Linked DNA regions of Homo sapiens. The protein of the gene in region 4 purifies or fractionates together with the protein of the main gene of each other region. This does not show direct contact. Each region holds a gene or a part of one and is shown on either strand. Other genes may lie near its edges.

Region 1 (3,500 bases), on a different chromosome or scaffold from region 4:
GTCTCTGTGAGGGGCCGGTAGATGCCTTGCTGAGGAGGGGATGGCTAAGTTTGACCATGCCCCATCCCCAGCTAGGAGAATGGAAATGGAAAGTTTATTGCCCAGTGGGTGTGAAAGTGGGCTGAAGCTTGGTTGGTACTGAATTCTCTAAGAGGTTTCTTCTAGAAACAGACAACTCAGACTCTTCCTCTCACTTCAGCAAAGAAGTTATTTTTAAAAGCACTTGGGAAGTTCCTCCTCCACCCCGCAGGTGGGAAGGCTCAGAGAAGGGTGTCATCAGTACAGCCGCCTTCTAGGCCGTAACGGAATTCCTGAAGGTTGGAGACTCCATAGAAGTGGACAAAGGCTGCTGCCACCACCAGGACATGGAAAATCTGATGAGACTGGAACTGTAGGAATAAAAAGAAAAGAGCCTTTAGGATAATGCAAGGAGGAATAAGAAACAAGTAGGAGAAAGCATTTGCTTCTTCTAGTTTATCCTTAATTAAACAAATTTGTTAATAACATTAAAGTGGTATATTTAGAAAGTTTTAAAAACACAGTCCTTGTCAGAGATACACCAAAATGTTAATATTGATGATTTACCTTCAATGCACATATATGTACCTCCAAACACTATATGATCCCAGTCTCATACCACCTTTTCCTCAGCCCTTTAACTTTGGGCTGTTCACTCACCATCACAGGACCTGCTGGAAGATTCATTTCTTACCCATATGTCAAATTTTCCAGGAAAGAAGCGCTCAGGAATTCGAGCAGCATAAAGGCCAGCTCCAGTGATGTACATCACAGCCATGAGGAAGAACCAGCCCATCTGGCCCACTGTGGTGGCCTTGACAAAGCCCTCAGCGATAGTAAAGTGCATGGTGGGCACGACGCCACTCAAGCCAAGTCCCAGGAACACGCCTGAACAGAACAGACATAAGACTGTCAAACAAGGAAACAGCCACCGCATGGAAGGCACTGCTGTCTTACTCTGGAATTTCAATGTTTATGATAATTAGCTATTTTTGGATGAATAGTACATGTTTAGGAAACTTAGCTACAAGATGGATAACACTCAACAGATATTTCTTCTATGTCCTGAATGGGAAGAAGCTGTGTAAGTGCTTACTACCTTTTAAGCACCAAGAACAAAGATCTCATATTCTTCATTATCTGTTAAGGAATTTAGGTAAAAATGGTATGTCAAGACTCTCTGATGGCTAACTTGGGTACAGAACTTAGATGTCAAGGCTTCAGTTGCCTCCCAAGTCAGAGAAGCATAGGATAGGCTTCCTGTTAAGATCATAAAAGTCTTACATAACCAGAACTCTGACCTCCTGAGTAGACAGATATACCCAGATTAGCAGTTATCCTGTAGCTGCTGGGACACACAAGTAAGGCAAGAGCAAGGGAAGAATGGGTATGTGTCTCATCATTACACTACACATAACTGAAGGGCAGGGACCACCTCTCCATCTTTGTAAATACCTTTGTTTAAGCACAGTGCATGGCACGTGGCTGGTGCTTGATAAATATTTAATTATTATTATTTTTTTCTTTTCTTTCTTTCTTTCTTTTTTTTTTTTGAGATAGAGTCTTGCTTTGTTGCCCAGGCTGGAGTGCAGTGGCGTGATCTTGGCTCACTACAACCTCTGCCCCCGACCAGGTTCAAGTGATTCTCCCGCCTCAGCCTCTCAAGTAGCTGGAATTACAGGCACCTGCCACAACGCCGACTAATTTTTATATTTTAAATAAAAACAGGGTTTTACCATGTCGGCCAGGCTGGTCTCAAACTCCTGACTTCAAGTGATCCGCCTGCCTCGGCCCCCCAAAGTGCTGGGATTACAGGCGTGAGCCACTGCTCCCGGACAATATTTAATTATTTTAACTGAAGGTTAAAACATAGCAGATATTAATTGTAAAGGGACTAAAGACTAGTGGTAATTGGTGGTGTTGCTGCAAGTAATAAAAGCTTAAAATAAGAGTCCAGATGAGATGAGACAACACAAAGATGTTTATGCTTGTAGCTATTACTTTGTTACCTGTTTATGCTCAAGGTATTTTCATTCACCAAACCAGGTATTCCATTCCCTTAGTAAAATGCCTCTGAGTGTTTTAATTTTAATCCCTTGGTCTGAGCTTGGGACTCGGGTCACTAAAATTACTGTGCTTGCTACATTTTTAAACTGTCACAAACCAAGTATAAGAGTAGCTACATCTGTGCTTGCAGTTAATTGACCAGCTGGGTAATGATCTGTCCTATTGGCATTCTACTGAAATAGTATGACACTGGGGGTTGAGAACTGAGCTTTGAAATTGATGCTGTTTTGAAAGTTCTGAAACACAAATCAGGGTTTGGGTGGGGTTCTCAAGCTGCAAACCTTAAGGCTCAAATAGGTTTGAGCCTATCAGGCCTAAGGTCTAAATACCTCTGAGGTGTACGTACATCTTCCGACCTACCTGCTCTTGTCTGCCGGTGCTTAGGAGTGGCAAACCGGTCCCACTGCGCCACAATGATGGCAGAAATGCCCAGGACACAGACGATGGAGAGGTAGATGAGCCGTGGCTGTGGGGAGCAGTAGAAGGAATAATAGAGCCAGGGGACAAAGCTCCCCATAATTAGAAGAGCAATCCCTGAATAGTCCAGTCTAAAAAGAACCACAAAAATGAAACAAATCAGTGGGGGAAATGAATTTGTATGGCTCATTTAACTAGCTCTTTCTGTTCTCCACCTGCTCCCAGATTTAACCATTCCCTCAATCTATCCTGTATTGTAGACTCCCATACAATCTATCCTGTATTCTGGATTAAAATTCCACAAGGTCACTTCTATTTTACGATGGAAAAATCTCTAAGAATCCCCATTCAAAGAACTCTATCCCTTTCCCTTACTAGTGAACAGCCGTATCTCCCATAGTAGACACTTGAATTTAGAAATTCCATCACAATCCAGCTGGTTCCCAGCATCACACTCAGGAAAGGCTTTGAAAATTCTCCTATTCTGATAGAATGAGTTCTAAAAACAAAATTCTTAAATTGGGAGTAGTATTAAGGGATACTCTAGCTTTTTCTATCTTAGTTGACTTTTTAAATGAGGAAAATGTACCTTCTTACTGGTGTTGTTAGAAAAAACAAAATAATACACCACTGTCGCCACCAAAACCAACAATAACAACAAAAACAAGCAAACAAATAGAACCTCAGGCTCACGGCTGGGCAAGAGAGAAAGCACACGATGATGGACATCTGGAGCTTCCAGCAATGCATGGGCAGCAAAGATAAGCTTTACTTGACTGCTGGGTAGGAGCACCAGCAGAATGAAGCATAGACTATTTACCACACCCTACTTTGGCTTGGGCTAATAGTAAGTTACGCTTGTACAAGGTCTTGGAAAGCAGCCAGTGCACTGGCACTCTAAGCCTCACAAAAGATAGTGCTTTTCAGGTAGAAAATATATTCCACAATTGGTCTCTCCATCTGTTGAAGAGGATGCAGTAAGTCTGTTCATGAAGTGT
Region 2 (3,500 bases), on a different chromosome or scaffold from region 4:
AGGTAGACAGGGTAAAGCGAGTCCCCGGCAGAAAACTTTTCTTTTAACAAACAGCAGCTCAAATATAGCTCTTTTTGACCTCATGCAGTTAACCCCAGTAAAACAGTGGCCCTTAATAAGCACATTCCTTTCCCTTTAGGGGCACTAAGATAAGGAAGCTAAAAGCAGACCGGGGGGATGCCTGCAGCTGCAAGATGTATGGGAACAGACAGAGAAACTCTCCCTTCCAGATAAGCTGGACGAAGACAACATAGAATAAGAGTCTAAGAGCCTATGTGGTCAAGGAATGGGATAAGAGCTGATAAAAAGCTATGCTCTGTACAGATAGCACACCTGGTCCCAACTAAAGCGTCCTCGGACCCTAGGAGGATAAGATATCCCCTCCTCATGAGCCCCCTCCTCACTAGCCCATTTATAAAAACCCTGACATTTTTACTACAACTTGGCAACCTGCTCGGAACCCCTCTCTGTAACAGAGCTGTTTCCTTTTGCCTATTAAACTCCTGCTCCAAACTGTGTGTGTCTGCGACCTCGATCTCCTTGGCCATGAGACCAAGAACCTTGGTATTTACCCCAGACAATGAGGCTGCTTCACAATTACAGGTGCCTACTACATACTGGCCATTATGGAGATACTGAGAGTAAAGAGATGAAAAGAAATAGTTCATATTAAACCAGATATGTTTATGCTGTAATACAGACATATTTTTCTCTGTCCCATCCTATTTTATAGTTATATAATCATATGGGCTCCATTTCTGGAGTACAGTTTTGGACAAATAATTTCATACCATACTGTATTTTCATGCAATACTGTAACTGTAGAACTCTATATTAAGTATTTTCATGTAGTACTATAACTGTCACATTCTGAATTCCATAATGAGAGACATCTAAGTACAAAACCATGGCAAGAATACTGTGGCTTTTTATATTTGAGTCAAACTTAAAAATGTCCTGGCCTCATAAACTGTTTCCAAAAAAAACCTTCTCAGCATTTTTAACTTATAAGTAGATGGCAACATTTTAATCAAAACAACAAAATTTCTGATATTATCTGTGACAAATGCAGGAAATGTACTTCCACTCTCAAAAAATAACCCTTGAATGAACACAACTCTCACGTGGAAGTTTATTTTACTGGGGTGAAACTCTGTATTTTTGCTAAATAATTGCTAATTTAACAAAGTAAAAGACAGCTGTCACAATTCCCAATATAAACAACAGCTTTTCCAAGTCAACCAAAAAGAGTAGAGTTTTGCACCAAAAACTGACAATCTTGTCTTTTGCTATTAAAAACCTATGGTTAGCAATTGCTAAAGAACTGTGGAGACTCTAGAAAGAGGGGGGTGGTACATATGTTCAATTCTTTTTTCCAAACATGTCAATAGAACAGAAGGTACAGTAGTTTATGAATGCCAGAACTAAGCAAACTAGTGGTTTGCTTTTTTTAACATGCAAAAAATTCTTCACACAGTATTAATTATATTATTTTTCAAGTGCATTGGGTTTGACTGTAAGAAAATTAATTATTGGGACCAGAAATTAATAAGACATGATTAAAAGTTCCTCCAGCAAAAGTCATGTTTGCAAACTACCTAACTCAACCCTGATTACCCATATGTAGAAACTTCACACTTACATCACAATTAAAGACATAAACTGAAATTAGTTGGCTGATTTTTGGCTTCCTCTGATTAGTCATTCACAGAGCAACAGTGGGACCTTAAAACTAACAGTTTTCCCAGCTATTTACCTCTGGAGTTCTGTTACGGAACTTGTTGGCTTCAACAATGAAGGGAAATTGTGCTGCCTATATCCCATCAATTAAAAATAGGATAGGAATTTATTTTTGACTATAGTAGTTCTGCCATTCAATTGGTACAAGCAGAGGGTAATGCTGGTTAAATTAAGACTTTTTTTTTTTTTTTTTACAGTTATACTGTGGAAAGTTATTCAAATTTCAAATTTATTTACAGTGTTTGAAAAGCACACAACAGAAGATCTTCATTTATGCAACAAGTCAATCATTTGCAGTATGTATGGAAAATAAAAATCTAAGGTAAGTCAAACATACAAACTCTACCTCTTGCTTTCTCCATTAGAATATACACATTGGAAATCTAAGTTCCAAACAGTTCCTCTCTACTGAAGATAGTGAAATTTAGTGCAAGCCCCCTAATTACCAATTTTTTGGATGCTTACAAAATGTTGAGCCTTGATGGTGGAAGAGGATTCTATTTAAAAGAGATGACTATATTTTTAAAAGGCTAAATTGACTCAGTTTATTTTCAAAAGAAGGGTTGATCCATGTTTTCAGTTTATTGCCATACAGAAAACATTTTATAAAATAATATGGTAGACTTCTACTTCAACATATTCACGTAAAAACATCACAGTGCAAGAAAGTGATCACAATTAAGCATGAAGACATCAAAAGCCAGCCAGTATTTTAACTACAGAGCAGAATATTCTTGCTGTCCCTTCCTAGAAAATGTTGGCACATTCATTAACTGCTCAGGTTACAAAAATCACTTCGTGTCCACTTCCTGTCCTTCAATATATTTTCATAACTACACTGTGTTACATTAATGCTGGTGGACAAATTAGCTCCTATAAAATCTAAAAACCTTTCAGGTGGCACAATGATTTAAAACCAACTAGGAAAAAGCTCTCCCAGAATATTTTTGTATGTAATATTCTGTCCATTACCACAATAACAGAGTAAAAAGCTGTTTTACCTTAAAAATAAGCTAAAGGAAGATAATTTCATTTTTCCTTTAAAACATTTCTTAGCTTTTAAATAGAGAGAAAAAGTTTAAATTTTCTTGGGGGAGGAGAATATTTCATAAGTAAAAACATCAAATGTTGTACAAATGTTTCATTTAGGAAACAAATACTTAGATTCAAAGGATTCTAAAACATTTCAACATTATAAGAAAACTGTAATTTAAAGCTAAAAAATTGTAATACATCGAACTAATATAAATTACTCATTAACATGTTCTATTGTTTTTCACAAAATCCATAATTAAGGAATAGTGGGTTAGGTGAGACATTTTTCCCAACATTTGGTCAGATTAGCTAAGCAGCTCTGGGCAAAGGATGCCTCCTCTGAATCAGGATCTTGGCCTCTTAAATGAGGGCACTGGACTAACTGCCCATTCACATCCCTCTAATCTACACATTTATCACAACTGTTCATCTTATATAATCCTTCCAAGGATGAAGTGTTTCAACTCAGTGTATTTTCCAGACAAAGCTCCCCTGTTTAAGTGGCAAAACTCTTCTTTAAACTTTAAAATTTTTACTTTAAAATGTTATTTCCAATATTATTTCCTGCCACCTTAGAAGATGTTGAGGGATAACTAACAACACAGTCTCTAAATGACACAGTCTCCTGGACTTGCCAGCTGATGACAGGATCTGCAGATACGTCTCAGGCTCTGCTCCAATTCTGAGCAACTCTGGGCCACACTGAGTGAGAAAGAGAATGATAC
Region 3 (3,500 bases), on a different chromosome or scaffold from region 4:
ATCCCTCCTGGGGTCTTTCTCGAATGCCACTAATTTCCCTTAATGGTGCTTTTATAGTCACTTAACTTTGCTCAAAATCTCTCCGTACTTCCCTGTTTTCTGCTTCTCAAGTCTAGACCTCAGGCTACCTTTCAGGGCCCTCCAGGTCTTGCCACACCCTCCACATCCGCTTGTACCTTGAACACTCACGGACGAGCCTGCCCCTCATGCCCCTGCACCCGCATCCTGGTTTCTGGAAGGCTTTCTTCTCTGTGTATCGGTAACCCACCTATCTATCAAGATCTAGTTCGTAGCTGCTTTTTTCCACGAAATCTTCAGTCCTCGCAGAGGTCCAGCTTCTCCAAACATCCCTAATGCCAGTAGGTGGCACTGTTGTTTACACGCTTACCACGGTCTTGCGGCCCTCCCTGATCACGTGATAATGTCTCTCCAGCTAGGTGGTAATGGGATCAGGAGGGTGTGTTTTGGGTCCTATGCTGAGGGCATGTTGGTTCATTAAATATGTGCTGCAAATATTTTTCTTCTTTGATTCCCAGAAAGCTGTGATTGGAGATGCCTCAGAAACTGCTCTTTTAAAATTCTCAGAGGTCATTTTGGGTGATGTGATGGAAATTAGAAAAAGAAACCGCAAAGTAGCTGAAATCCCTTTTAACTCTACTAATAAATTTCAGGTGAGTTTTTCCTCACAACCGGTAATCTCTGTCATCGGCAGCATGACCTTTCTACTTGCATGCATCCTTTGCTTACCTCATATTTTGAAGGATACCTGGCTTCAAAGACAGTCGTCAGGGATACAGCACCCAGGCATCTGGTCCCCTAGGTCAAGCTCCCTTGCTGGCCTCCTTCCTAACCCTGAAGCAGGGCAGAGAAAGAAAGAAAGGCAAGGACTTCATCAGGGCCTGGCTGCTCCTATGAATGAGCCATCTCTGTCACAGGCACACACTCTCTCTCTCTCACACACACACACACACACACACACTCACACCACCACTATCAGGTACCTTCTGCCGTGAGGAGCAGCAGCCATACTCCAAAGCATAAATGCCAGGTGGGCAGCAGGGAGGCCGAACACCTGCTCCTCTCACCTCTAGTGCATCAGGCCCTCGACCTACGTGGCCTTGTTCCATGTTCGCATCCGGCCTGTGAGGTAGGACTGACGAATCCTGACTCAGAGGAGGAAGCAGGCCCTTAGAAAGTGTTGAGAGACCAGAGTCACACAGCACCCAGTGTTCCCAAGCCTGACACCAGGTCCACGATTCTTCCACCATCACACAGAGGGAGTGCGGCACAGTTCAGGCCATGGGAGCAAGCCCTGCCCTTTGGGGAGACCGGTGAGCAGCCCCTGGGGTGACAGCCCCGTCGTTTTCTGGGGCCAGCCCCTGTGCTGTGGGTGGGGGTCTCCTTTCCATCCCCTGCTCAGGTAGAAGACGGCCTTCCTTGCCTGGTTATCTCAGCAAGCAGGGCTGGCCGACAGTCAGCCATCACAGCCTCCCCATGTTAAGACAAATGACAGTTGGGAGCCCCAGGTCCCCATGCAGATGGGATTTTCCACAGAGCCCACACTGGATCTGGACTTGGGCTTTGCACAACAGTAAAGTATAGAAATGGAATAACCACAACTGTACGTGTGGAGATTTCTGGTGATTATCCACCTGTCTTAGTTCGGATGGAATTTAGGGTTAGGGAAGAACTCTTTTTTTTTTTTTTTTTTTTTTTTGAGAAGGAGTTTCACTCTTGTCACCCAGGCTGGAATGCAGTGGCACGATCTCGGCTCACTGCAACCTCCGCCTCCCAGGTATAAGCAATTCTCTTGCCTCAGCCTCCTGAGTAGCTGGGACTACAGGAATGCACCCCCTGCCCAGCTAATTTTTTTGTATTTTTAGTAGAGACAGGGTTTCACCTTGTTGGCTGGGCTGGCCTCGAACTCCTGACCTCCGGTGATCTATCCGCCTTGGCCTCCCAAAGTGCTGGGATTACAGGCGTGAGCCACCAAGCCCAGCCTAGAGAAGAACTCTTGTGTTGCAAATGTCTTCTTTGTGGATAGTGAGCCAACAGAGAATCACAGTTAGCTAAATAGACAACTAACCAGAAACATATGATGTAAAATACTCAAGCCAAGAAACCACATCTCTTACGTAAAACCAAAGTGAAAATAGAGTGCGCAACAGTCCTAAAAGACTGTTTTAGGATGAGTATTATTATACTAATAATACTAGTGATAATAGGAGCTATTCTGTGCTAATTTCCACAAGTATTAAATTATTCATTCGCACGACAACACTGTGGGGTGGCTAGAGGATGAGGAGGTTGAGGTGCCGCGCATCAGTGCACAGTGTGAAGATGGGGTTAGATGATGCCTCCATCAGCAGCAGGACTTGGAGCCCTGCTGAAGCTCCATCTCCCAAGGTAAAGGCATGCCCAGTTGCAAAAGGGAGAAAAAGCAGGTTCCATGAGGCCTCATGTACAAGTTGGAGGAGAAAGTGGCTACACAGAGTGGGACTAGAAAGGGGAGAGGGGGGCCGGGCGCGGTGGCTCACGCCTGTAATCCCAGCACTTTGGGAGGCCGAGGCGGGTGGATCATGAGGTCAGGAGATCGAGACCATCCTGGCTAACAAGGTGAAACCCCGTCTCTACTAAAAAAAAAAATACAAAAAATTAGCCGGGCGCGGTGGCGGGCGCCTGTAGTCCCAGCTACTCGGGAGGCTGAGGCAGGAGAATGGCGTGAACCCGGGAAGCGGAGCTTGCAGTGAGCCGAGATTGCGCCACTGCAGTCCGCAGTCCGGCCTGGGCGACAGAGCGAGACTCCGTCTCAAAAAAAAAAAAAAAAAAAAAAAAAAAAGAAAGGGGAGAGGGGCTGTGTGAGTTCCTGCTGAAGAGGTCGGAGGTGCTGTCTGGATGCTGTTAGGGTCATTTTATATCTACACATGAGCGGTGCTCAGCCTCACCAGGGCTTTAGATGTCATGGCCTTGGAAGGAGACGTCTCTGCGGGAAGGAAATAAAATGGAAAGCCTGTGTCTTATTGATTAGAATGGTGATGCCCCAAACACACTGGTCTGTTAAGACATTTGAAACAGTTTACGGCAAATTGGAAAATGTTTTATAAAGTTTTATATAAAGATGAATGTATTTAATTTAAAAGATTATCCTTTGTAGCCACCATGATTAAGGGCAGGGACTCTGGAGCCTGCTAGCCTGGGCTCAAATCCCAGCTCAGCCACCAGATAGCCACCTATTGCTCAGTGACCCTGAGTGAAGCATTGAACCTCTGTGCCTCAGTTTCCTCCTTTGTAAAAGGGAATAATAATAGTACCCATGGCCTTAAAGTTGTTTTGAGAATAAATAAGTCGATGTGGACAGCACTTAGAACAGTGCCTGGCACGTGGTACATACCATAAAAGTGTTTCATATTATCCCTATGTTTTAAATGTAAAAAGCCTTATCTTGGCCAGGTACAGTGGCTCACACCTGTAATCACAGCACTTTGGGAGATCGAAGAAGG
Region 4 (3,500 bases):
ATCTCAACTCCATCCTTCCATATCCTTTATCCTTACTATAAATCTTTTTTAGACATTAAGGCCTCAACGAATCAGAGCAGAGCCAGAGAAATCAAAGAGAAGCAGTGCTTTCATTGTTCCAAAGGCCAGAAACTTTTTTTTTTTTTTTTTTTTTTTTGGTGCTAAAGCCATTCTAAGACCACTGGTACCAATTCAGGAAAACCAAATATGCAGATGACACCTCCAAAATTGACTATTACATATTCAGCAATCAGATATATCAAATAATGAGGTAATTCAGCCTTTAAAAATTTTAAGGAGAGAAACTGAGAACAGTATTTTCTATCCTAATGAAACTTTACCACTCTCATTTGCCTGCAATATAGCAGTTAGTCAAGGTCAGATTTTGTAGTTTGGGTCACTGGTGTGAAATATAAGATTAAAACTGTATTGCTGTGAACAAATGTATATGGGTGCTTATTAAAAGTATTATAAATGTATATTGCCTATCTGAAATATTTCATAAGAAAAATATTGTGGATCAATTGATTATTTCATGGACTGATTGGACATAAAAAAGTCAGGACAAATAGAAAATTTGCAAGTCAAAATCATTTGCTCTTCCTAAAAAATTCTAGAAGACAACTTGCTGTGTAAGATAGTAATTATCTTAGCATTTGGTGAAAAATATAAATATTAAATTAACCATATCGAAATAACAAAAACTATTTTAAGTATGCTCTGGGTATTAGATTTTCTGTGTTGTTCCCTTGTGCAGGATGGTATTTGTGTCTATATATATTTAGTTATGTGACTAAAACCCTTCCTAATAACTCCTTGTCATAATCTGCTTCTAATCAAAGTTAGTCAATAGCATTTATTGGTCATATATACAGAAAAAAATTCAAATATTCAAAATTGTCATATAACTCTTACACATCTTATTCATTGTTTTCTTTTATACCACAGTATATATTTCCCTTAGATCCTTTTAAAGTTATCACATTATCTACCAATGCATACTATACTGCGTACTACTCATAATCTGAATATTATTTATTTCCAAGGTTCTTAAGTTTAGCTAAGATGAAATATTTAGTTTCTAAGATATAGTACAGTAAAATTGTACTGAGTTCTTTTAAACTATTTAACTGTACAGAAAAGAAATAACATCTAGGCACACTGATTAGTATTCAGATCCAGAATTAAATATGAATTTGTATTTAAAAATAAATTGATTTGAATATTTTAAGTGTATTCATGGTATATCAAATAAAACAAATACTAAGTTTCTATTATATAAACTGTACCTAGTGAAAATAGGAAAACTCTCTTGCCTTCAAAGATCTTAAATAGTTAGGGAAAAATAAAATTGACCCTTGAACAACACAGGTTTGAACTGCACTGCTCCACTTACATGCGGATTTTTTTTTTCAGCTAAACATGGATCAAAAATACAGTATTCGCAGGATGCAAAACCCATATATACTGAGGTGCTGACTTAAAGCGAGTTCTTCAAGGCCATCGGCAGGACTTAAGTATGGCATATTTGGGTATATGCAGGGGTCCGGGAACCCATCCCCCATGTATTGTGAGGGATGACTATAAAACAATTTGAAAAGGTAAAAGATATTTCATAACTGCAACAAAGTGATGTTACTAAAATGTTTGTAACTTCCAAATTGATTTTTCAACAATAACTGCAAGAGGCATGAAGGAAAAAGAATCTATTTCAGCTGGAGACATCATGGGCTGCTTAACGGAGGCAATGGAGCAGGAAGGCAAGAATAGGCATTGCATAACCCCATTAGAGAAGTCAAGATAATCCACAAACATATTGCCTCATTAAGGGAAAAGTAGGAGACATAAGCTACCTTTGGCTTCCTGTGTGCAACTGGGTTTGAACAGCCTGCAAAGCAGGGAGAAAAATATTGGACTCCATCTCCACAGACAGGATAATAATATGATCGCGAACAGTTACAATTGGCATTACAAGGGGCTATCAAGTTTCCCAATTCTCCAGTCCTGTAAATAAGAAATGAAAGAAGGGTAAATGATCTGTCATAACTTTTAACTAACAATTTCGAAGCACTGTTATATCTTACCATTAGGTCATTTATTCACTCACTCAACACATAATTACTAAACAAATAAAACGTCTTCCTTTGCACATAAAGTTTAACTTCTTGTCGGAGAGAGGCAATAAAAACAATAGTCATATAGTATAGTATCTGTCAGTAATTTAAAATAAAAGGCAGAATAAGTGAAGAAGACAAGAGTTTCCCATCTGGCACCAGGTAATTCTCTTGTGGGGTTGGTTCTATGGACTATAGAATGTTTAGCAGCTTCTCTGACTTCCACCAGATACCAGTAGCACTCTCCTTCATTACAGCAACCAAAATATCTCCATACAGTGCCAAATATGTCCAGGATGCAGACAATATTTTAAACTTGGAAGGATGAACAAAATCATGCTGTTGAACATAATCATCTCATCAATGGGAAAACTGAGGTCCAGGGAGATTAAGTTACTTTTCTTTCCTTACCAAATATAATTTTCCCAGTCCCCAGGCTCAGTGTCATTGCAAGCTGCCTCTTAGAGAAAACATCTTCCCTAATATAAAGGGTTACACTAATCAAAAATGCATCCCTTATACCTCATTTATTTATTCATTCAAACAACATATATTGAGCAACTGCTAGACCCTATGCTGGGTAACGGGAATACAAAGCCGAATAAGACAGTCTCTGCCCTCAAGGATTTCACAGTTTAGAAGTAGAGAGGGACTTAGATAATTATTCAGTAATATGCTAAGTGTGGTTACAGATATCAGCAAAGTGCCTTTTAGAAGCACCAAGGAAGGACACCTAACACAAGCCAAAGTTTAGAGAAAAGGGGCTGGAGGAGCTACTGCCTGAGATGCGATTTAAAAAATGAGTAAGAGGCTGGTGCGGTGGCTTACACCTGTAATCCCAGCACTTTGGGATGCCAAAGCGGGTGGATCACTTGAGGTCAGGAATTTGAGACCAGCCTGGCCAACATGATGAAACTCATCTCTACTAAAAATACAAAAATTAGCTGGGCATGGTGGCAGGCACCTGTAGTCCCAGTTCTCGGGAGGCTGAGGCAGGAGAATCTCTTGAACCCACGAGGCAGACGTTTCAATGAGCCAAGATTGCGCCACTGCACTCCAGCCTGGGCAACAGAGTGAGACTCCATACAAAAAAAATCGTAAAAAATATATAAAGAATGAGTACAAGTAAGCCAGTCAAATGGGGAAGGGGAAACGTACTTCAGAAAAAGCTGGTACAAAGGCATAGGGTAGAGAAACAGCATCCTCTGTGGAGAAATATGAATGATGTCTGAGGCACAGAGTGATGGGAAATGTAGCTGGACAGGAGTAAAGGACCAGTTTAATTGAGAGCCACATGGGCCTGACAAAAGGTAATCGTTAAGGTATTTTTAGAATGGAAAGTGACACTGTCAAAAGTTCGTTTTAAAGAAGTAATTCTAGGAGTTG
Region 5 (3,500 bases), on a different chromosome or scaffold from region 4:
CAGATTTCTAGGTCCCATCCCTGAGCTTCTGATTCAGGTTCCCCAGTAATGCTGCTGCTGCTGGTCCTGAAACCACTCTTTAAACCATAGTACTAGTCTTAGACAGTGAACACTTGAATGCCATCTTGGAAATGTCCAGCCTGTGACTTGTAGTTGATCTCAATACTGAGCTTGACCCAATCACTTAATATAATAGGTGTATGGTAACCTGTATTTCTGCAAAATAAGGTAAAAATACCTAATCCCTCGTTAACATCAGTGTTTTATAATCTGCATCGTAAACAGCATTTTCCCCAGAAAATAGAAATATATATTACTCATATACACAAAATATGAAGGCTTGCTCATTCATTCATCATATATTAATTGTGCCAGTGCTATACTAAGTGCTGAAGATGTACTAATAAGCAAAAAAGAAATGGCTCCTTGCCCTATAAAAGTAAATAGGCAATTACGACGCAAGTGCTTACCACTAGAGTGATAGAAGTACAAGGTATTCCGAAGTCACACAGCAAGGAATTCAATCGTCTAAGGAAATAAGGAATAACCTTCCCTGTCCTATCATTCTCCTTCATACTTAAAGCAACTGAAAAATGTGGGGATTTCCCTATAAATATGCAAGGGTATAGATATTGTTCTCTAGCTCAGGCAGAATAAGTTACTCCCTTTTCTGTGATTCCATAGACCTTACACTCACCTCTATTATCACCTTGTATAAGCTTAGCTTTATTACTTCATCTCTTGCTCACAGTGAGTCCCTTGAAGGTAGAGAATAACTGTTACACTTTTTGGCCCTAGTTCCTATCATCAAGGTGGATACGGAAGAGGAAGGGAAAGAGGAAAGAAAAAGTGATGAGAAGGAGGGAGGTCATTGTTCTTGAAGTAGAATGAATACTTTGTTTTTCCACTACTAGGTGTTAGTGTAAACCACATCCAACCACTTGGTCACTCATTATGACTAACAGCATGCATTAACAAGATGGGTAATGGATGCCATCTGCAACGGTAGAATAGGATAAAATTAATTAGCCCACGTGGGGATAAAACCTGTTACACTACCCTGATTAGTACTATGCTCTAATCAACCCAACTAACCAGTCTTGAAATCAAACGCCAATTTTTGACAACCCACAATGACTAATAATCAGCAAACCTACTCCAGAGAGCCTAAGTATAGTAAAATAGAGGAAATTACACCATTGTACTCATCCCTTAACTGTTTACTGTGGACAAGAAAGAGCCTATTTGCAATCTTTAGTGCATCATGATCATTCTAAGAAAGGATAGAACCTACTAATTGCATGAAGAGGATATCCCCCTTCTCTCTTTAATGTTAGATGGCATGTAAAAGGATTTGTTTTTTATTTAATTAACTGGTTACTGCATCAGTCTGATAGATCAGCCTTACAGGGTAACATAATCTAAAATTTTGATATATGGCCATGTTTACAAGTAATAAAAATAAAAGAAAAATCATAAGATACCTGGGCCCACAATGATTTATTCTGGGTTGATAGTGAACAAGGCTGATTTGATTCATTTTTCTGCCAGAAGGAAGGAATCGCCCATAAAAACACAAATGAGAGTAGGCTGGTAAGTGGTGGGTGTTTCTTTTGCAATACTATTAGCAAAGAGAAGCAGAGCCAACAAACAGAAGTAAAATGAAACCAGGTGATTCTTACTTGTAGAGGTCAGGTTGAGGCTGTTCACATTCAATTGCTGCTCGGAGGGTATCGATGGATTCTGCTGTACACAGTGCAATGGTATCACGTACTGCATAATGTGTCTAGTTGAAAGCAGAAGAAAAAGTGAAAACCAAAAAAACTTTCTTTTCATAATCATACACCCAACTGATTTCAGAAACAAATTTAGTTTATGTTTTAGTAAGAGGCTTTGGCAGAATAAACAAATATTAACATTTCCCACTAATAAGTTTTATGGTATTATTATGAAAATATATTACAAATAATTAGAAAGATAACCTGCCGCAAGGAGGGTTTCAAAGACAATTAAAAACCTAAAAGCTCTTCTTGACATGGACAGCTGAGAGAATTCTATTCACAACATGCATATAATTAACTAAAACCACGTGAAAAAGTTAATACATTTATTTTTTTTCCTATTTACAGAACTGAGACTTATTATTTTGCTCACTATAGTGTATGGCAATGGAGATATACACATATGAATTGAACATAACCTTTTTGGTCACAAAAATGCTAAAATTTTGCCAACAGCAAGAAAAAAATCATTAATAGTTCCATTACACAAATAGCTTAATTAATGATCTTGAAAATGTTCAATATGGATACATTTTGTACAAGGGGCAGGGAGATGACGTGTCTTGCATTAGTCAGATAATTAGAATATTCTACTAGTGTATATTATGCACTTGATTCATCCAGAACTCAAGGCAGGCGCCAATGAACCCACTTATAAATCATCAAACAAGGGTTAAAGCAGACTCAAAGAGCGCACCACTTAGGCAGAAGGGAAAGCTGTTGTCGTCATCTTGGGGGAAATATTACGGCAATGTCTGAACTATATTTAAAACTATCTCCTGATTTTGAAAACCTCTGTACTTTTAGCTGATTTGATCAGAACAACTTAACTGAAAAAAGAAACTATCTGAAAGTTTTCTTACTCCAAACAACTTTTTCACTATCAGGAAATCTTTATGTAGATTTCTTGATTTATATCTTGACATTCCCTAAATTATAACTTTGTTTTTGAAAAGGTTAAAAGCAGGTCATTACCATGCTTTTGAAATACAGAATTAGTCATCCAACAGGTAAAGGTTCTTTTTTACATACTGAGTCGTAGTCCTCAACTCCAGATGGAATAAACAAACAGAGGAGCCCTCCAAGGACATACCCAGAGGTGAGCCACATGAGTAACCCTCCTTAAAGGCAGCATAGAGAGGATACATCTTCATGCCCTGTGGAGCTCTGGACCATGGCCAAGAAAACCGACTGTGCCAGAAAGTGTATGAGGGAAATAAGTTACCCCCATTTGGCCAAATTTACTTTAAGTCACTTGCAATTATAAATGAGTTATAATTTGTTATATGTACATAAAATGTTGCTTTATAACTTACTTATAAAGCAAACATTTTCCAAACTACACCCTATCTTTTTTTTTTTTTTTTTTTTTTTTTTTTTTTGAGATGGAGACTCACCCTGTCACCTAGGCTGGAGTGCAGTGGCGTGATCTTGGCTCACTGCAACCTCCATCTCCCGGGCTCAAGCAATTCTATTGCCTCAGCCTCCCGAGTAGCTGGAATTACAGGCGCCCACCACTATGCCCGGCTAATTTTTTTGTATTTTTAGTAGAGACAGGGTTTCACCATGTTGGCCAGGCTGGTTTCGAACTGCTGAACTCAAATGATCCGTCTACCTCAGCCTCCCAAAGTGCTAGGATTACAGGCGTGAGCCACCGCACCCAGCCCTAAGTATTATTTTTAAATAGCAATCAAATTACTCCAGGTTGGGTTTCCTACA
Region 6 (3,500 bases), on a different chromosome or scaffold from region 4:
CTTAGGCCTCCCCAGACATGTTTCCAGTATAGCCTGTGGAATCGTAAGCCAATTAAATCTCTTTTCTTTATACATTATCCTCTCTCAGGTAATTCTTTATAGCAGTGTGAGAGCAGGCTAATACACCATGGGATCAAAATTTTCCCACAAATGGATTTCCTTTATGAGTTATGATAAGTAAGCTTGAAATTAATTAAATATAAATAATTAAAAAAACAAGTATGGAGTTGCTATTAAAAATGCAAGTTAACATATGAAAACAAAAGAATAAGAACCAAATGATTCTGCCATTTAAGATAGAACAAAATGATTCTATCATTTAAGAATCAATTATAAATTAGGTGTTTTAAAACACAAAAATATAGTATTTATAAAGGTCTACAAAATATTCACAAATCAATATTTCTATGTTTTGTAAGGAAAGGATAATTAGAAATACTAAGCATTGTCTTGAAGTCTGGAGTTATTCTACTTCTTGACAAAACTTTGTTGAGTAAATACAAGACCTTCAACAGACTAAGTGCAGTAAGCAGGAAAGGAGATTAATGCCATGGCCCGTAGCAGAAAGTGGAAATATTCAAGAATTTTATCTGCATAGACAGAAAGAAAAGTTTCTTCTTAATTCATATTCTCAATTCAGCTAGTTATTGTCCAATTTTTGGTCATGTATTGCTATACATATAGGATATATTTATACTTCAGGAAACAAAAGAAAAAAATGAAAGTCCCAGACTTCCACATTTCCATTAGCAATCCTTGATAAAATTCTGCAGTATTTTAACTGAGCAGATGATATTGAAATGGTTTCTTTCTTGTTTTATTATATTTTATCTTAAAATTCACTGTTCCATAAAAATATCATTTATGCTCTACCCAAGGGAGAAAAAGCAATCTTTTAATTCAAAGAAAAATTTTCTTGTAGCATTAACATTATTCCATCTGTCTTTCAGCGTAGATACAGAAGGAAACTTAAAATACTGAGTATTCCTCCAGCATTTTTTTTCTATGTTCCTGGTTATATTTGTGGTTCTTCATTTACTCCTTCTATATTTGGTTGTATAAATAAAAATCCTCCACAAAGCAGGCTGCACCATCAGTTAATTGACTTTGACAATATGTTAGTAGGTATGATCCAGTATAGCACATAATATAAGCCAAATGTACCTGGAGCCTAGGATGAGCATAGAATTCATTTAAAAAATCCATAAGTAAATCAATCTTCAGTGAGCTGACACACAGGACGACATGCTTTTCAGTTTGAGCTCTATGTCGACTATAGTTTCCTCCTGACTTTTGTCTCTCCATCCACAAATAAGCCAGCTGTTCAAACTGTAATATATTTTCCACATGTGAATGAAAAACACAGTAAGGAAATAAATAAATCAATGCAATACATCTATTGTTTATTAGGTATTTTCAATTTCCTAGATGGAACTCATTGAGATTCTAATTGTCAGTATTCCCCTTCAACGACAGACTTTTCATATAATTTCTACAGAGGCTGCAAATGTCTCCCAGGGGCTTCGGGTCTCTAAGGAAACATATTAACATGATTTTGCTATCACATAATAACAGGCCACTAAGAGGTTTGTACCTCTGCTTTATGTCCAGTAGAGCTGAGTGAAAGAGAAAAGCCTCATTGCTATTTTCCCACATTCTCTGTCAAATTCTAACCATATCTCATGCAATAGGAGTTACTCTTACCATAACACACAAGGCCACATTCTAGCTGTACAGTAGCCATTAACGGAGGAAAGTGAAAGGTGCAAGGGAGGGTATGTCAGGAAGAAAGACATGCATGAATTTATCGGAGCAGGAAGGCCATTTTTGCAGGTATTCTATTCAGATACATTGCGGCCAAAGTTTTGCAATGGAATATGCAAGTTTGATTTGCATTTCCCTATAGCCTGCTTCTGATCTGCCCACACATGGGCAGCCAGGGCTTATTATAGGAAAGAGTTAGAGATTGCATCTACTTATCTTTAATTCCATTTATATATCCATCCCTTTGCAACCTCCCTACTCACTCCCCAAAGTGCCACATAATATTTACATACCATGTTCAGACTTTTTTTTTTTTTTTTGTAGAGATGGGGTTTTACCTTATAGCCCAAGCTCATCTTCAACTCCTTGGCTCAAGCCATCCACCTGCCTCAGCCTCCCAAAATACTGGTATTATAGGCATGAGCCCTGCACCTGGCCCAGATTTTATTTGACAAACATAAGTAATAGATTTTTCTTCATTGCAGTGTATGACTTTGTGGTTTATTTTGAAGAACCAAGAGAAATCAACCCTTCACAAATTTATTTCTTTGATCTATCATCCTATAATTAAAAACTATGTTATTCTATATTTAATATAATTAAGTACCCTATACTAAAAAAAATCTTGAATGATTGAAATAAGATGAGTGCTGTCAGTCATGACTGGAAGGAAAAAAAAGCAACTCGGTGTTTCTAATAAAATGTAAAATGACATTTCTGCAGTAATTTATGTAATTGATTAAATGTAATGATAGTATGTGTTAGTAAATTAGTGTTAGATAAATAAGCCACTTTCCATTTCTTATTAAATGTGGAGGATTCAATTTCATGTCTCTGTACATTTCTATGCAATATAAGATGGTTTTGTTTACCTGTATGGGTAGAACCACAAGAGCAACACAAATCATAGCAACTACAAAAAGCTTGGAGGACCATGTTTCAGGAGTGACATCCCCGAAGCCCACAGTAGAAAACGTCACAATGCAGAAATAAAGGGAGTCAAAGAGATTCAGCTTCTTTCCTATTCGTTCCAGATGTTGGATCCCACAAATGCTAAAGAAACAAATATGCATTACAATTAAATCTTTCAAACTGGACACATAATTTCTCATCATTATTCTTTTGAAAGCCAAAGCACATTTCATAAAGCCATTTAATAGTCCCTCTTATATTTTACAATATATTTTTCTAGGAAAGATATAATTAGTAAGTTCTTGTCCTACATTGACCAGACATGATCTTATTTTGATTAATAGACAAAAGTGGTAGCTAAAATATCACACAGTATATTTGAGTAACATGCAAAATGAACAGATAATTTCATGGGTGATACACATAGACACTGAATGAACATCAACACAAGAAATCGCTACCTCTAATCCCTACCAAAATACCAAGTCTTTTCTTTTTCTTTTTTTTTATAATTTTTTTGAGACTCTTTTTCTTTTTTTATAATTTAGGAAGAAGAGAAAGACAGTAAAAGGCTTGAGGAGTTAACAATTGCCAAATGCTATGGTTTGAATGCTGTCCCCTCCAAAACTCATGTTAAAATTTAATTGCCATTGTACCACACTAAAAGGTGAGACCATTAAGAGGTGTTTAGGTCATAAGGGCTCCACCAACATGAATGAACTAATGTTGGTATCCTGGGAATGGGCTCCCTCACAAGATCGATCTCTCTCTCTCTCTCTCTCTCTCTCTCTTTCTCTCTCTCTTTCTCTCTCTCTTTCTCTCTC
Region 7 (3,500 bases), on a different chromosome or scaffold from region 4:
CTGGAATCACACCTTTATTCTGGAACAAAAAGAAAACTGCTAAACAGAAGCAGATACTGTTATAACTCTTCCTTAAGATAAGCTTTATAGGCAGTGTTTAACTAGTTTAACTAGTGCTAGACAGCAGGCACTGTTTGTTTTTGCCTGGGAGGAAAAGAAATGCTTTTAGCAGAGATGAAGGTTGAATGATTATCACCATTCAGGATTTACCTTGTTCAGGGATTGTTAGGGAGCGATCAAATCGGAAAGGTAAAGATGAAATGCTTTTCCTGTTTCTTGATTTTTATCTACCAGCAATAATATGAGGCACACTCGTAAAGTAAAGGTTTGCATTATATTTACAATTAAACTCTAGAAAAGCATAATTCTGAGCTAAATATTCTGCCTAAAGAATCTCTTTCACATAATCCTTCCTGGTCACTTGCTCCTTGCACTCACAATTTGTTTCTTAATTCCTATGCTTTTTATCCCTTTCTATACAAGGATTTGTCCAAAAAAAAGTATACTCCCTTACCAGAACGCAACCTCCTGCAGGGGCCACATCTTACTCACCTTGTGTCTCTGTCAGCACTCAGCATTGGGCTTTGACCACAGCTCACCTTCGATTAATAAAAATTATAAATCAAGGCCGGGTGCAGTGGCTTACATCTGTAATCCCAGCACTTTGGGAGGCCAAGGTGGGCAGATTACTTGAGGTCAGGAGTTGGAGACCAGCCTGGCCAACATGGCGAAACCCCGTCTCTATTAAAAATACAAAAATTGGCCAGGCGCGGTGGCTCATGCCTGTAATCCCAGAACTTTGGGAGGCTGAGGTGGAGGTCAGGAGATCGAGACCATCCTGGCTAACACTTGGTGAAACCACATCTCTACTAAAAATACAAAAAATTAGCTGGGTGTGGTGGTGGGCGCCTGTAGTCCCAGCTGAGGCAGAAGAATGGCGTGAACCTGGGAGGTGGAGCTTGCAGTGAGCCGAGACTGTGCCACTGCACTCCAGCCTAGGCCACAGGGCGAGACTCCATCTCAAAAAAATAAAAAATAAAAAAAACAAAAATTAGCCGGGCGTGGCACAAAAATAATCCCATCTACTCGGGAAGCTGAGGCAGGAGAATTGCTTGAACCCAGGGGGCAGAGGTTGCAGTGGGGCAGAGGTCGCATAGAGCTGAGATCGCACCACTGCACTCCAGCCTGGGTGACAGAGCAAGATTCCGTCTCAAAAAAAAAAAATTATAAATCAAAACAGGTTTCTGCTTTAGGTGACAACAGATGAAATCAAGCTCAACCAACTTCTACCTATAACTCATATAATCCTAGATATAGTGGAGCAAAGACGGAAATGGGACCATCAATAGCTCTGCCACTGACTTCCCCTGCAAAATTGAATAAATCAAGAATGAACAAAGCCATAAATATCTAGGATCAGGAACTTTGTACTATGGCCGAGTCCCATCAGTTTTCCCTGACAGCCAGTATTAGATAATCATTTACAGCCATAGCCACCATGCATCTGTATGCAAAACCCTCACATTGTAACATTGGAATTGGCTTTATATGAAAGCTACAATTACAGCCTCTCATCTCCTCTCATTCTATATAAAAGAGTGGGATCTACAAAGCCATACACGGAAACTGGTCATTTCAACCTTGCCTAACAGGGGTTCTTTTCTCATGCTTTTTAAGGAAGGAGCAGGAATAGAAATTCTCGGAGTCCTTATCAGTAAGTAATGATCAGGAATGTTCCATTGATGCTGCTATAAACCTCTAGCATAACAGCAAGGTGACAAAGAATTTTCTAAAATCAGTCCCAAATAGCAGGAAAGAAACACTTAGCTCAGGATGAGTTCAAGAACCAAAAATGGGCTGAGTTGTGCTGATTTAGGTCAGAAACAGGGTCAAAGTTGCCTCTTTCAGAGATGAGAATTAGATATAACAAGTAATTGGCTGGGCACAGTAGCTCATGCCTGTAACCCCAGCACTTTGGGAGGCCGAGGCGGGTGGATCACTTGAGGTCAGGAGCTTGAGACCAGCCTGGTCAATATGGTGAAATCCCATCCCTACTAAAAATACAAAAATTAGCCAGGTGTGGTGGTGGGTGCCTGTAATCCCAGCTACTTGAGAGGCTGAGGCAGGAGAATCGCTTGAACCCGGAAAGCAGAGGTTGCAGTGAGCAGAGACTGTGCCACTGCACTCTAGCCTGGGCGTCAGAGGGAGACTCCATCTCAAAAAAAAAACACGAATTGCCAGCTCTTAGCACTGTCCAGTGGAACCTTCTTTGCGATGGAAATGTTCCACATCTGTGCTGCCCAGTGTAGCAGACATCAGCCACATGTGGCTGCTGAGCACTTGAAATGTGGCTAGCATGACTGAGGAAATGAATTTTAAATTGTGTTTAATTTTAATCTCAATGTAAACTGCCAAATATGGCTAGTGGTGACCAAACCGGAACTGTAGCTCTAGATTCCCTAAATTAGGGACTTTCAATGACAGGCAATTCCCTCTACCCCTTGGGGGACAACTGCCCCCATCTTGAGACATTTCTTATTGTTACAACTGGGTGTAGGGAGTGCGACTAGCATCTACTGAGCAGAGGTCTGGGACACTGCTAAGCATGCTGCCATGCACAGGCCAGCCCCCATAACAGCAAATTATCTGACCCAAAATATCACTAGTGCTGACGCTGAGAAACTGCTTTAAGTTTGCTCAAGGACAGAATTAAAGTAAATGCAAACAAACTGCAGTATACCTTGCCTAAACATAATACCCAGGAAGAATGAGATCTTTTAACCAACAGAAAAAGGTCTGGGCTATTCTACAAGTTTAGAGTAGCAGGTTTTGGCCTGGCACGGTGGCTCACGCTTATAATCCCAGCACTTTGGGAGGCTAAGGCAAGAGGATGGCTTCAGCCCAGGAGGTTGGGACCAGCCTGGGCAATATAGTGAGACCTTGTCTCGAGAACAAAAAAATTGTTTTAATTAGCTCAGTGTGGGGGTGAGTGCCTGTAGTCCCAGCTACTCAGGAGGCTGAGGCGCGAGGATCACTTGAGCCCTGGAGACGGACGTTGCAGTGAGCCGAGATTGTACCACGGCTCTCCAGCCTGGGTGACAGAGAGAGATCCTGTCTCAAAAATAATAATAATATAACAGGTTTTTACTGGAAGGTGTGTTTAATAACTTAAAATCTTCATCATTATAGTGATTACTTCCTGTGGCATTTTCCTTATTGAATATTAACATAAGTACACACTGTGAGACTCTGCTACAGGGCCTTGTTCCTTATGCCTTGGACATACAGTGGGGGGCAGGGGCAAAGCCCCTACTCCTACTCTCCTAAGTTTGAATTTCCTTTGCCTCCTCAATTAACCCATCTGATTTATTGGGACATCACTGATCTCAGATACAAGAAAACTGATACTGTTGTGGAAGAAAAGCAAATCGTGACGAGAAAATGGCTCTGTTATCACAGGTCTGCACGTTTACATAACAGAAAAAGCAAGGGACAGAACT

Evidence for each region.
Region 1: the proteins of SLCO4C1 (region 4) and ADIPOR1 purify together in Homo sapiens (affinity purification with mass spectrometry; one large-scale study listed by BioGRID and IntAct). This does not show direct contact.
Region 2: the proteins of SLCO4C1 (region 4) and PDK1 purify together in Homo sapiens (affinity purification with mass spectrometry; one large-scale study listed by BioGRID and IntAct). This does not show direct contact.
Region 3: the proteins of SLCO4C1 (region 4) and ATP12A purify together in Homo sapiens (affinity purification with mass spectrometry; one large-scale study listed by BioGRID and IntAct). This does not show direct contact.
Region 5: the proteins of SLCO4C1 (region 4) and ATP11C purify together in Homo sapiens (affinity purification with mass spectrometry; one large-scale study listed by BioGRID and IntAct). This does not show direct contact.
Region 6: the proteins of SLCO4C1 (region 4) and KCNT2 purify together in Homo sapiens (affinity purification with mass spectrometry; one large-scale study listed by BioGRID and IntAct). This does not show direct contact.
Region 7: the proteins of SLCO4C1 (region 4) and PDXDC1 purify together in Homo sapiens (affinity purification with mass spectrometry; one large-scale study listed by BioGRID and IntAct). This does not show direct contact.

Annotation. Positions count from the first base shown.
Region 1 is NC_000001.11:202,941,313-202,944,812, forward strand, and holds part of ADIPOR1 (adiponectin receptor protein 1), read right to left. Parts: intron 2,634-3,500; coding exon 2,446-2,633; intron 907-2,445; coding exon 713-906; intron 390-712; coding exon 261-389; 3' UTR 1-260. UniProt on the Homo sapiens protein: Receptor for ADIPOQ, an essential hormone secreted by adipocytes that regulates glucose and lipid metabolism. Required for normal glucose and fat homeostasis and for maintaining a normal body weight.
Region 2 is NC_000002.12:172,597,590-172,601,089, reverse strand, and holds part of PDK1 ([Pyruvate dehydrogenase (acetyl-transferring)] kinase isozyme 1, mitochondrial isoform 2 precursor), read right to left. Parts: 3' UTR 1-3,500. UniProt on the Homo sapiens protein: Kinase that plays a key role in regulation of glucose and fatty acid metabolism and homeostasis via phosphorylation of the pyruvate dehydrogenase subunits PDHA1 and PDHA2.
Region 3 is NC_000013.11:24,693,908-24,697,407, forward strand, and holds part of ATP12A (potassium-transporting ATPase alpha chain 2), read left to right. Parts: intron 1-536; coding exon 537-671; intron 672-3,500. UniProt on the Homo sapiens protein: The catalytic subunit of a H(+)/K(+) ATPase and/or Na(+)/K(+) ATPase pump which transports K(+) ions in exchange for Na(+) and/or H(+) ions across the apical membrane of epithelial cells.
Region 4 is NC_000005.10:102,247,785-102,251,284, forward strand, and holds part of SLCO4C1 (solute carrier organic anion transporter family member 4C1), read right to left. Parts: intron 2,005-3,500; coding exon 1,854-2,004; intron 1-1,853. UniProt on the Homo sapiens protein: Mediates the transport of organic anions such as steroids (estrone 3-sulfate, chenodeoxycholate, glycocholate) and thyroid hormones (3,3',5-triiodo-L-thyronine (T3), L-thyroxine (T4)), in the kidney.
Region 5 is NC_000023.11:139,800,554-139,804,053, forward strand, and holds part of ATP11C (phospholipid-transporting ATPase IG), read right to left. Parts: intron 1,787-3,500; coding exon 1,683-1,786; intron 1-1,682. UniProt on the Homo sapiens protein: Catalytic component of a P4-ATPase flippase complex which catalyzes the hydrolysis of ATP coupled to the transport of aminophospholipids, phosphatidylserines (PS) and phosphatidylethanolamines (PE), from the outer to the inner leaflet of the plasma membrane.
Region 6 is NC_000001.11:196,426,941-196,430,440, forward strand, and holds part of KCNT2 (potassium channel subfamily T member 2), read right to left. Parts: intron 2,818-3,500; coding exon 2,637-2,817; intron 1,330-2,636; coding exon 1,165-1,329; intron 1-1,164. UniProt on the Homo sapiens protein: Sodium-activated and chloride-activated potassium channel. Produces rapidly activating outward rectifier K(+) currents. Contributes to regulate neuronal excitability.
Region 7 is NC_000016.10:14,978,026-14,981,525, reverse strand, and holds part of PDXDC1 (pyridoxal-dependent decarboxylase domain-containing protein 1), read right to left. Parts: intron 644-3,500; exon of another isoform or gene 553-643; intron 1-552.